Homo sapiens: one gene and its partners. The protein of the gene in region 1 purifies or fractionates together with the protein of each later gene. This does not show direct contact. Each region holds a gene or a part of one and is shown in the gene's direction. Other genes may lie near its edges. The genes, in order: CAB39L, BTF3L4 and GBP1.

Evidence for each region.
Region 2: the proteins of CAB39L (region 1) and BTF3L4 purify together in Homo sapiens (affinity purification with mass spectrometry; one large-scale study listed by BioGRID and IntAct). This does not show direct contact.
Region 3: the proteins of CAB39L (region 1) and GBP1 purify together in Homo sapiens (affinity purification with mass spectrometry; one large-scale study listed by BioGRID and IntAct). This does not show direct contact.

Annotation. Positions count from the first base shown.
Region 1 is NC_000013.11:49,349,939-49,353,596, reverse strand, and holds part of CAB39L (calcium-binding protein 39-like), read left to right. Parts: intron 1-2,684; coding exon 2,685-2,853; intron 2,854-3,658. UniProt on the Homo sapiens protein: Component of a complex that binds and activates STK11/LKB1. In the complex, required to stabilize the interaction between CAB39/MO25 (CAB39/MO25alpha or CAB39L/MO25beta) and STK11/LKB1.
Region 2 is NC_000001.11:52,062,682-52,066,339, forward strand, and holds part of BTF3L4 (transcription factor BTF3 homolog 4), read left to right. Parts: intron 1-2,143; coding exon 2,144-2,257; intron 2,258-3,658.
Region 3 is NC_000001.11:89,058,587-89,062,244, reverse strand, and holds part of GBP1 (guanylate-binding protein 1), read left to right. Parts: intron 1-1,920; coding exon 1,921-2,048; intron 2,049-2,818; coding exon 2,819-2,928; intron 2,929-3,201; coding exon 3,202-3,404; intron 3,405-3,658.

The DNA of each region.
Region 1 (3,658 bases):
ATGGCATTTGAACTAAGCCTTGAGAGATGAGAAGCATCTGAGTTGTGGGAATGTAAGAAGGGCATTCCAATTGAGGGAATGAGGGGCTCCAGGGAAATAACGAATGTGATGGGAGATGAAACTGAAAAGTTAAGGTTAGGGCCAAATTACAAAAATCCACATATATCTTGCTGATCAATAAGTCTGGATTTTAATTGTCCTTCCCTTAGATTCTTTCTCTAGGCCAACAGCCTTTATTTTATACTCTCTTGAGTACTCTATCAATAAATGACAGTGCTTTTCTCCTTTACATTTCAGAACATATACCCCTCTTTACAACATCTTTAATAAAACCCCACCTGACAACTGTTCCTTGTGAGCCAATAGGCTGAGTTTCAGGTTTTTCTAATAAGAGAAATTGCTAGCACTATAAATTGGCATTCCTTATATTCTACAAAGAATCATGACTATCTGAATGTATCAGCATTTAATGTTACTATGAGTTATTCAGGGAATACTCAATATTTGTGAATATCATTCTGCATAAACAGGACAAAAATGAATAAATACCACCCTGGTATCTTTGTTTGCTGTTTCTTCTACTAATATTTGTAAATTTGATATTGGAAAGTAGTCTATTTCCTCAATTGAATCTTTATTCTTGAATCTGTCTTTCATGAAAATTCTATAATCTTATAAAGAGTAGTACATTACTTATTGTTCAACAAATGTTGTTACTAGTAGTTGATGAGTAATAAAATATCTTAAAGTTTTATAGTATCATAAAAGTTCCATAAAAACTAGTATTCAGTTGAAATGGTCAATGATATCTCTTTAAAAATATGGTCAGATTTTATTTTATTTTATTTTTATTTTTGGAGACAGAGTCTCGCTTAACTTTCCAGGGTCAAGCAATCTCCCACCTCAGCCTCCTGAGTAGCTGGGACTACAGGCGTGTGCCACCATGTCCAGCTAATTTTTTTAGTTTTTGTAAAGTCAGGGTCTCAGCTAAATTTTTTATTTTTTTATTTTTTGTAAAGTCAGCCATGTTGCCCAGGCTGGTCTCGAACTCCTGAGCATAAGCAGTCCATCCACCTCAGCCTCCCAAAGTGCTGGGAGTACAGGAGTGAGCAGTCACGCCCCACCAGATTTTTTTTTTTGGAGGGGGCCCTATATTCTGCTCACTTCCCAGTGTATCACAACTATATCTTTCTTTGTTCTATTCTTCCTATATTTACCACACAATTGTCAACTGTATTATTTCAATACAGGGCTTGTTGTACTTGGGCTAAGCATTATTCATTTTCTTGAAATCTTATCACACACTGGAATATATCTTAAACTTACTTAGAGACTGAATTTGACTTTGAGAGATTGTTGTTGTATTAGAAATGGAACCAATCTGGTATGCCAGTCCTGAATTGTTTCCCACAGTAGACGTTTCGTTTGTCTAGCATATTTTTTGCTGTGAGCCATGATTCCACTTAGGATTTAAGTGAGTCAATCAGTCCACAGCTATGTATTAGCCACCTACTGCATGCAAATCATATATTTATATAGGTCTCTCCTATCTTTTTCCTAAAGTCCAGATAAGTGTATCATACTGCCAAGGAGACCTTTCTACTTAGATATCAGCCATCTCAAAACTAATGTGGTCAACCACAAACTCTTAATTTCTTTACTAACTTGTTCCTCTACTAGTTTATTCATCTTAATAAATAGCACCACCATCTACCCAGTGATTCAAGCCAAAAACATAGGAATCATTCGTGAATTCTCAGTTTCCAAATTTATTCCCTCACCCAACTCCAGCTACATCATCAGCAAGTCTTGTTGACTCTTCCTCCGAACAGTATCCACCACCTGCCCACAGTCCTCTGTTCTGCTCCTGCCACCCCAGGCCAAGCCCCCGTTCCCTCTCCTGGGTTCTGCTCCTGTTCTTATATGTCTCCTGCTGTTTTACAGACATTCTCAACAAGAAGCCAGAGTGATCTTTTTAAAGCATAAGTTAGTCTTGTCAATTTCTTGCTTTAAACTCTCCAAAGGCTTCCCATTACACTTAAAATAAAACCAACTGCTTACCTTGGCTGACAAAGCTGTATCTGATCTGGGATCTGGCCCCTGCCCTTCTCTCCACCCCTGCCTCATTTCACACCACTCACGGTTCTTCCTCTACAATCGAATCACACAGGCTTTATTCCTCCTTCTCTGTTTCGCCAAGCCTGTTCTTGCCATGGAGCCTTTGAACAGTTTTTTCCCTTTGCCTGGAACATTTTGCCTTTTCCTTGAGTCTAAAGTAAAGTAACTTAAGTAGTCACTCACACACACACACACACACACACACACACACACACAATTTAGTCACCTTTATAATGTGGCGTATTTTATTGTCAACAGTTTTTACAGCCCTTCTCAGTGTATGAAATTATCTTTTCATTGTTTACATTCTGCCTCATCCCCCCACCCCCAGCTGTCACCATGTTCATATTTGAGTATATCTAAGTGTTTCAGAATACACTCAAATTCCAGAATACGTCTGCAATAGTGCCAGGCACATAGTAGATCTTCAGTGGATATTGAATGAATCGTGACAAATGGTATGTATGCTTCCATTAATAGCAGTATTGAAATGGTTCTTTTGATGCCATTAATATTATTTTAATAGGATAACAGAGTTCTCTATTTCTCTCTTGTTTACGCTTTAGATATGAAGCCCCACAGATTGCCTTACGTTGTGGGATTATGCTGAGAGAATGTATTCGACATGAACCACTTGCCAAAATCATCCTCTTTTCTAATCAATTCAGAGATTTCTTTAAGTACGTGGAGTTGTCAACATTTGATATTGCTTCAGATGCCTTTGCTACTTTCAAGGTAATTTTTTTTTTCCAACTCAGCTAGGTCAATTTATAGTCACTTGGCCCCTGAAGAGGCAATTTAATTTTAAAAAGCAAGAAATTTTACTTCTTAGGCCTCAGTGTAGCCAACCATGTATGATGTGGATCATAAGAGGAATCTGTAAATAGAATGCAGTCTATGAGGCCAGTCTGTCCTATTGCAGGAAAACAACTCAAAATATTTGTCACAAGCTCAAATGGAGTGAATTCCAGTATATACAGTTACGTGGGAAAGGAATATGTAGTGCTCTGTGTGTGGCATGCTGTCATTTATGTTAAAAACAGATTAAAGGGCATAAGCTTCCACTTAAGGTACATATGCACTGAATACCTCTGCAAGGATGCATAGGAAACAGCAACAGTGATTAATTCTGGGGAAAGGAACTAGGTAGTGAAGGGAGATGGAGAATTACATCTTTGAATATGAAGGACATCATGTTATTTTATGAATGAAATTTTTAAATGTCCACATGGTGAAACAAAATAGTAAGAAATTATATTGTCGTTGTTTCATAATCATCTATAGTTTGATCATGTATTATCTACTTTGTCACTATGTAGGAAATCGTAGGATGCAATATATTCACATTGTTAGGCAACCAACTACCAGAACTTTTTTATTTTGAAAAATTCAAACTCTACCTCTATACTTATTAAATAATAACTCCCCATTTCCTCCTCCCTCCAGCCCCTGACAATCATTTTACTTTTGGTTTCTGTATTTTATCATCAAAAAAATGTTCAGAGAATATATCAGAAAAGAGTGCAGCTAATTTGCAGAC
Region 2 (3,658 bases), on another chromosome or scaffold:
GCTGCTGGCGTTGTGGAAAATGGAACAAAATGGAAGTTTGGCCTATAGGCGAACAATTGAGACGCTATTGCTAGAGTCTAAGGCAGCAGTCCGCAATCTTTTTGGCACCAGGGACTGGTTTCGTGGAAGACAGTTTTTCCACGGATGGGAGGATGATGGTTTTGGGATAAAACTGTTCCACCTTAGATCATCAGGCATTAGTTAGATTCTCATGAGGAGTGCGCATCCTAGTTTCCTCGCATACGCAGCTCACAACGGTTCGCCCTCCTATGAGAATCTAATGCTGCCGCTGATCTGACTGGCTGTGGAGCCCAAGCAGTAATGCTCGCTCATGCCCCCTACCCCACCTTCTGCTGTGCTGCCGTGTTCCTAACAGGTCACAGACTGGTACTGGTCAGTGGCCTGGGGGTTGGGGACCTCTATTATATGGGATACAAATTTAGGAGTTGGAATTGACACGATTTAGTGACTGATGGGATATGGGGGGTAAAGGGCATGCAGAAGAATCTAGGATAACCCTCAGATTCATGATTTTAGAGACTTGAGTATATGGTGGTACCACCAGCTACAAAAGTTAGGAAATAAGAATAGATTGGTGGACTGATAAGCTTTAAGACATATTGAATTTGAGGTGCCTGAGGATCATTCGAGTTGAACAAGCACCAAGCAGTTGAGCTATCCCTGAGTCAGGAATGCTTCACAAATGAGTGCCTATGTAAATAGTCAGTCCTTCAGCAACTAGATTTCAAGGCATCCTCTGCTGTCAGATCTCTCCTCCACTCCCACCGGAATTGCTGAGACTGAAGCCCCTACCTTACCTCTATAAGGCTGATTCCCTGAGTACTACTATAGGAGCTACCCAGAGATTGAAACCACTATTCCTTTCTCCTTACTCCTACCAGTTTTAGAAAGATTTAACCCTCAAGACTTAATAAACTGATCCAGGAATCCATTATTTTAAATAGTATTTCAATGGAAAAATGTATTTAGAGTTTCACAGTATCAATTTAGAAATGAACTTTTTCTTTCTCAGTAACTAGTATAATTTTCAACCTGTTTGCTCAGGCCAAGATTCTAAGCATCATCCAAATGTCCTCTTTTTCTCATATCCCACGTGTAATCCATCAGCAAAGTCATGTGGTCTCTTGTGAGAATCTGACCCCTCACCATCTTCACTGCCATATCCCTCATCTCTGGCCAGGACGGCTACAGGAGCCTCCTGACTGGTCTCTTTATAATCCATTTTCTACATAGCAACTTCAGTCATAAGTAATCAGATCAAGTCACTCCCATGCTTAAAACCTTTCAATGGCTTCCCATTGCAATCAATAAAATCTAGCTCCTGCCCATGGCATTCTAGGCTACATAATCTGGTCCTTGCCTATCTTTCTGATTTCATATTCCTCTTCCGTTCCCATTATTCACTCTGCTCTAGCCATACTGGCCCATTTTCTCTCTTCTAGAAAGGACAAGTTCAACCTTGTTTCATTCTGCTTTGATCATTCTTGCCCTAGTTATGGGTCTCAACTCATATGTTACCTCTTCAGAGGGGGCTTTCCTGGACCTTCTAATAAAGTATTGCTTTGCCCCTACTTAGTCATTCTTGCTGTGCTCTAGTTTTGCTTTTTTCTTAATAGTACTTAATCCCATTTGAAATTATCTGATTTGTTTATATATTTATTGATTTTTTTCCTCCTACTGTAATGTAGACATTAATTTTCAGTTATGTCCTAATTCCCCAAATTTCAGAATATCTTTAGACTACTGGCAGGGGGTGGTAGTTACTATAAGAAAAGATAATGTTTTAAAATTGTTATAAAGTATTTAAATTGTCTTGAAGTTATAAATTATGTTTTATTAGCAAACAGTATCTTGTGTTGAAATGACAAAGGCTGGATATTAGATAAGAATAATTCAACCTGAAAAAGCTGATAAGGAAAAAAAAGGAACTGGCTAGAACCAACCTTTAGAAATCTGCGTTAGGCTGACAATCACAACCTCTGAGAAGTCTTATAACATTAATCATTATTATTTTGTCCATTTTTTAATGTGGGTTTTAGATTATTGTGATACGTAAGATGTGATTGCAGTTGCCAGATGCCAGGCATGCTAACACTTCTGCTTCTGTTTGGTTATTTTTCAGGGTACAGCTCGCAGAAAGAAGAAGGTGGTACATAGAACAGCCACAGCTGATGACAAAAAGCTTCAGAGTTCTCTAAAAAAACTGGCTGTGAATAATATAGCTGGTATTGAAGAGGTATGATCACTTTGCAAGTTGTTAAATTGTGTGGGTACATGCACAAATAATTGTCTGGACCTTTCAGATGTAAAATATCAGCTTAGAAAAATCTTTGATATTGTCACTCTGATGTCTTTGAAGGACTGTGGCACTTTGATTTTTGTATGAAATTAAATGATGGTCAAAAAAATAATTTTAGTAGACAGTTAAGGATTTTCATCATACTTTTCAAGCTCAAGATATTTGCGTATATGGCAAAATTATGTAAGTGTTCTTGAATATTAATATAAAATATGTCTCTAATAATGTAGAAATAAACCCCAACATTTCCTCAGATGAGATAGACCTTTTTTTTTTTTTTTTGAGATGGAGTCTCACTCTGTCACCCTAGCTGGAATGCAATGGCACGATCTTGGCTCACTGCAACCTCTGCCTCCCGGGTTCAGACGGTTCTCCTGCCTCAGCCTCCCAAGTAGCTGGGACTACAGGTGCGTGCCACCATGCCCGGCTGATTTTTGTGTTTTTAGTAGAGACGGGGTTTCACCATGCTGGCCAGGCTGGTCCCAAACTCCTGACCTCAGATGATCCGCCTGCCTCGGCCTCCCAAAGTGCTGGGATTACAGGTGTGAACCACCGCGCCCGGCCAGACTTTTTTTTATTATTTAAGATTTTGGACTCATGGCTCAATAGAGGTAGACTTTTTTACCCTAATGCACCTGTATATTTTACAGAGCCTCATTAGTTACTACCTCAGCCAAAAGGCTTTAGCAGTAGCTTTACATGGGTTAGATTTCTTATTAAAACTGTTTCAAAAATTGTTTAAAATGTATTAGTCAGCCGGGTGCAGTGGCTCACGCCTGTAATCTCAGCACTTTGAGAGGCCTAGGCAGGCAGATCATCTGAGGTCAGGAGTTCAAGAGCAGCCTGGCCAACATGGTGAAACCCTGTCTCTACTAAAAATACAAAAATTAGCTAGCTGTGGTGGCACATGCCTGTAATCCCAGCTACTCGGGAGGCTAAGGCAAAAGAATCACTTGAACCCAGGAGGCGGAGGTTACGGTGAGCCAAGATTGTGCCATTGCACTCCAGCCTGGGTGACAGAGTGAGCATCCGTCTCAAAAAAAAAAATTGTATGTCAGTTTATTGTATTTTGATGACACTATTTTTCTCAAATATGAGACCAAAGATTAATGTTATTCCAGAAGATACTTAATAAATAACAACAACTACTTGTGATGTTACCACCTAGATGCACCTCTGCCTGATGATTCCATTTGTTTTTTTGTTTTTTAAGACAGAATCTCACTCTGTCACCCAGGCTAGAGTGCAGTGGTGTGATCTCTGCTCACTGCAACATCTGCCTTCTGGGCTCAAGAAATTTCTGCCTCAGTCTCCAGAGTAGCTGGGATTACAGGCGCC
Region 3 (3,658 bases), on another chromosome or scaffold:
GTCTATTATAAATAATGCTAATAGGAACATGGGTGTCTGAATATCTGTTCAAGTCCCTGCTTTCACTTCTTTTGGGAATATACCCAGAAGGGGAATTGCTGGCTCATGCAGTCATTGCATGTTAACTTTTTTTAAGAAATCACTATACCATTTTCCACAGTGACTGTACCGTTTTACATTCTCAACAGAAATGCACAAGGGTTCTAATTTCTCTACATCCTCACCAACATTTTTTATTTTCAGTGGTTTTTTTTTTTTATAGTGGCCATACGAATGGAAGTTAAGTAGTATCTCGTTGTGGTTTTGATTTTGATTTCCGTAATGACTAGTGATGTTGAGCATCTTTTCACGTGCTTATTGGCCACTTGTATATCTTCTTTGGGAGAATGTCTATTCAAGTCCATTGTTCATTTATTAATCTGGTTGTTTATTTCTGTTGCTTTGTAAATTTTTTTATATTTTCTAGATATCAATCCCTTATCATATACATGTTTAGAAACCATTTTCTTACATTCCGTGTGTTGCCTTTTTTAACTCTGTTGATAGTGTCCGTTAATACACAAAAGTTTTAAATTTTGCTGAAGTCCCACTAATCTATTTTTTCTTTTATTGTCTATAGTTTTGGTTTCTTATTCAAAAAATAATTTCCAAATCCAATATTATAAAACTTTTACCCTTTATTTTCTTCTACAACTTTTATAGTTTCAACTCTAATGTTTGGTTCTTTGATCCATTTTGAGTTCATATTTGTAAGTTATAAGGTAATAGCCCAACTTTTTAAGGAGATATATCATTTCCTCAACATCATTTGTTAAAGAGACTCTCCTTTCTTCATTAAATGATCTTGACACCCATACTGGAAATCATTTGACCATATATATCAGAGTTTATTCATGGGCTGTCTTTTCTATTCTATTGGTTTATATGTCAGTCTTTATACCAGTACCACACATGGTTTTGTAATACGTTTCACAACTCAGAAACTGTGAGACTCCAACTTTGCTCTTCCTTTTTATTTTTATAATTAGGGGATCTCTGGAAATTTCATATGAAATTTATGGTGGATTTTTCTATTTATACAAAGTAATTGGAATGTTGGTAGGGATTATATCAAACCTGTACATCACTTTGGGTAGTAGTGACATCTTAAGAATATTAAGTCTTCCAATCCATAAACACAGGATGTCTTTCTAATAACTTATGTCATCTATAATTTCTTTAAAGGGTGTTTGAAGTTTTCACTCTACAAGTCTTCCACCTGCTTGGTTAAGCTGATTCCTAAGTAGTTTATTCTTTTGATGCTGTTAAATTGGATTGTTTCCAAAATTTCCTTTTCTATTTTTTACACTAGCAACTGATTTCTCCATATTGACTTTGCATGCTGCAACTTTGATGAATTGTTTTAATAGTTCTAATAGTTTTTTGTGGGATAGTTAATGTTTTCTACAAATTAGATACTATCATCAGCAGACAGAGATAATTTTACTTTTTCATTACCAATTAGGATGCCTCCTTTATGCTTCTCTTGTCTAATTACTCTGGATAGGACTTGCAGTGTTCTGTGGAATGCAATTGACAAAAGTAGGCATCCTTTTCTTGTTCATGATGTTATAGGAAAAGCTATGACGTTTCATCATTAAATGTGAAGTTAGCTGTGGGTTTTTAATACATGGCATTTATTATGTTGAGGTGCTGTCTTTCTATTTCTACTTTGTTGATTATTTTTATCATGAAAGCCTCCTGAATGTTTCCATGCATTGGATATTCAAATTTCCTATTTCTTTGATTGTAAGTACGTAAGGTGAATACTGATTGTTGTTTCAGTTCTCTCTCTTAACCTTAAATATACTACTTTTTCCTTCAATTGCCAGAACTGCCTGTTACTAAATCCCCATCGCTGGTCTCCTCTCTCCCTTGCAGGCTTCTCTCTGGGCTCCACGGTGCAGTCTCACACTAAAGGAATCTGGATGTGGTGTGTGCCCCACCCCAAGAAGCCAGGCCACATCCTAGTTCTGCTGGACACCGAGGGTCTGGGAGATGTAGAGAAGGTGAGACTCAAGGATCCAGTTGTGGAGTAAGCCCCTCCTCTCTGAATATTTTATGCAGCGGTTAATTGTTTATTAACTATTAACTACAGGCTGTAATATGTGTGGGTTAACACAGATGCATAAAGGGAGCACAAATAATCCCAGTGTCATAAGTCTTATCCTGCACAGAACTTTAGTTAAGAATTTGGGTGCTAAAGCCATGTGACTTTGTATTTAAATTTAAATTCTGTCACTAATTCAGTAGCCTGAGAAAATTGACTTATTTTCGCCTCAGCATTCTAATCTTTAAAATGTATGGAAAAGACCTATGTTGGCCATATAGTATTATTTTGAATATTTAATAAGATAATACATTACAGGTGTATATTAATTATTCAATAAAATAGCAACTAATAGTACCAATCTTATATGTGAATTCTGTTATTGAAAAAAAGAAGAGAAAATTTTAAATTTACATTGTACTCAGGCCTTAAAATGCCCACCAACCTTGAATTTTAATTTTACAATTATCTGTTGATGATCATTAGAAGACCTAGTAAGAATCATGGTAACCCAAAAACACTCGTCGAAAAACTACCCAAAAGCCACATCCTACTGAGAATAATTTTTGTATTTGTCTTCCTTTAATAGGTCATTAGTGTTAAAAAAAAAAAAAAAAAAGAAAAGAAAAAAAAACCCTCTAACATATGAACATAGTTTTACTACTGTTACTCTGAAAAGTGCTGCGATGATGAAACTTGCTCCTGACTCCAGTGTGTCTTGACTTCCAGGGTGACAACCAGAATGACTCCTGGATCTTCGCCCTGGCCGTCCTCCTGAGCAGCACCTTCGTGTACAATAGCATAGGAACCATCAACCAGCAGGCTATGGACCAACTGTAGTATCCTTTTGTGACCCAGAACAGCACCAAGGTCAGAGGGGACACCTGTATTCATACACCAGCTGCCTGACTGTGAATCCTGATGAATCAAGCTCAAAAGGAGAAAACAAAAAATAATGCAAGTACAGAGGAGAGATCCCATGTATCCACTTTAGAACTGACACTGACACTTAGGTTAGGAGCAAAGGAAAATGGAAGGTTTGGGTATGTGTTGAACTAACATGGGATGAGGTCCCTGTTCATTTTGTCACATTTCCTTAGTTAGCTACTCAGCTATGTGACAGAGCTGACACATAGAATCCGATCAAAATCCTCACCTGATGAGAATGAGAATGAGGTTGAGGATTCAGCTGACTTTGTGAGCTTCTTCCCAGACTTTGTGTGGACACTGAGAGATTTCTCCCTGGACTTGGAAGCAGATGGACAACCCCTCACACCAGATGAGTACCTGACATACTCCCTGAAGCTGAAGAAAGGTAACAGAGAGCTTCAACTGATAAATGAGGATGAGAAAACACAAGAAATTATCATTTTTCAGTTTACTATTGCTAGTTTTCCAGCATTTGCAGTTTTCTATGTCTTCAGCTGGCTATTCCTAGAAATTAATACTTGCTGAATATCCAAATTAATAGATGTTATTTTAAATTACATTTGTCATTGTTCTAGAACAAGTTTCTTGTTCTTTCACCTTTGTGTATGCTGTGATTAGGTTAATTTTATCTCCCTGCCT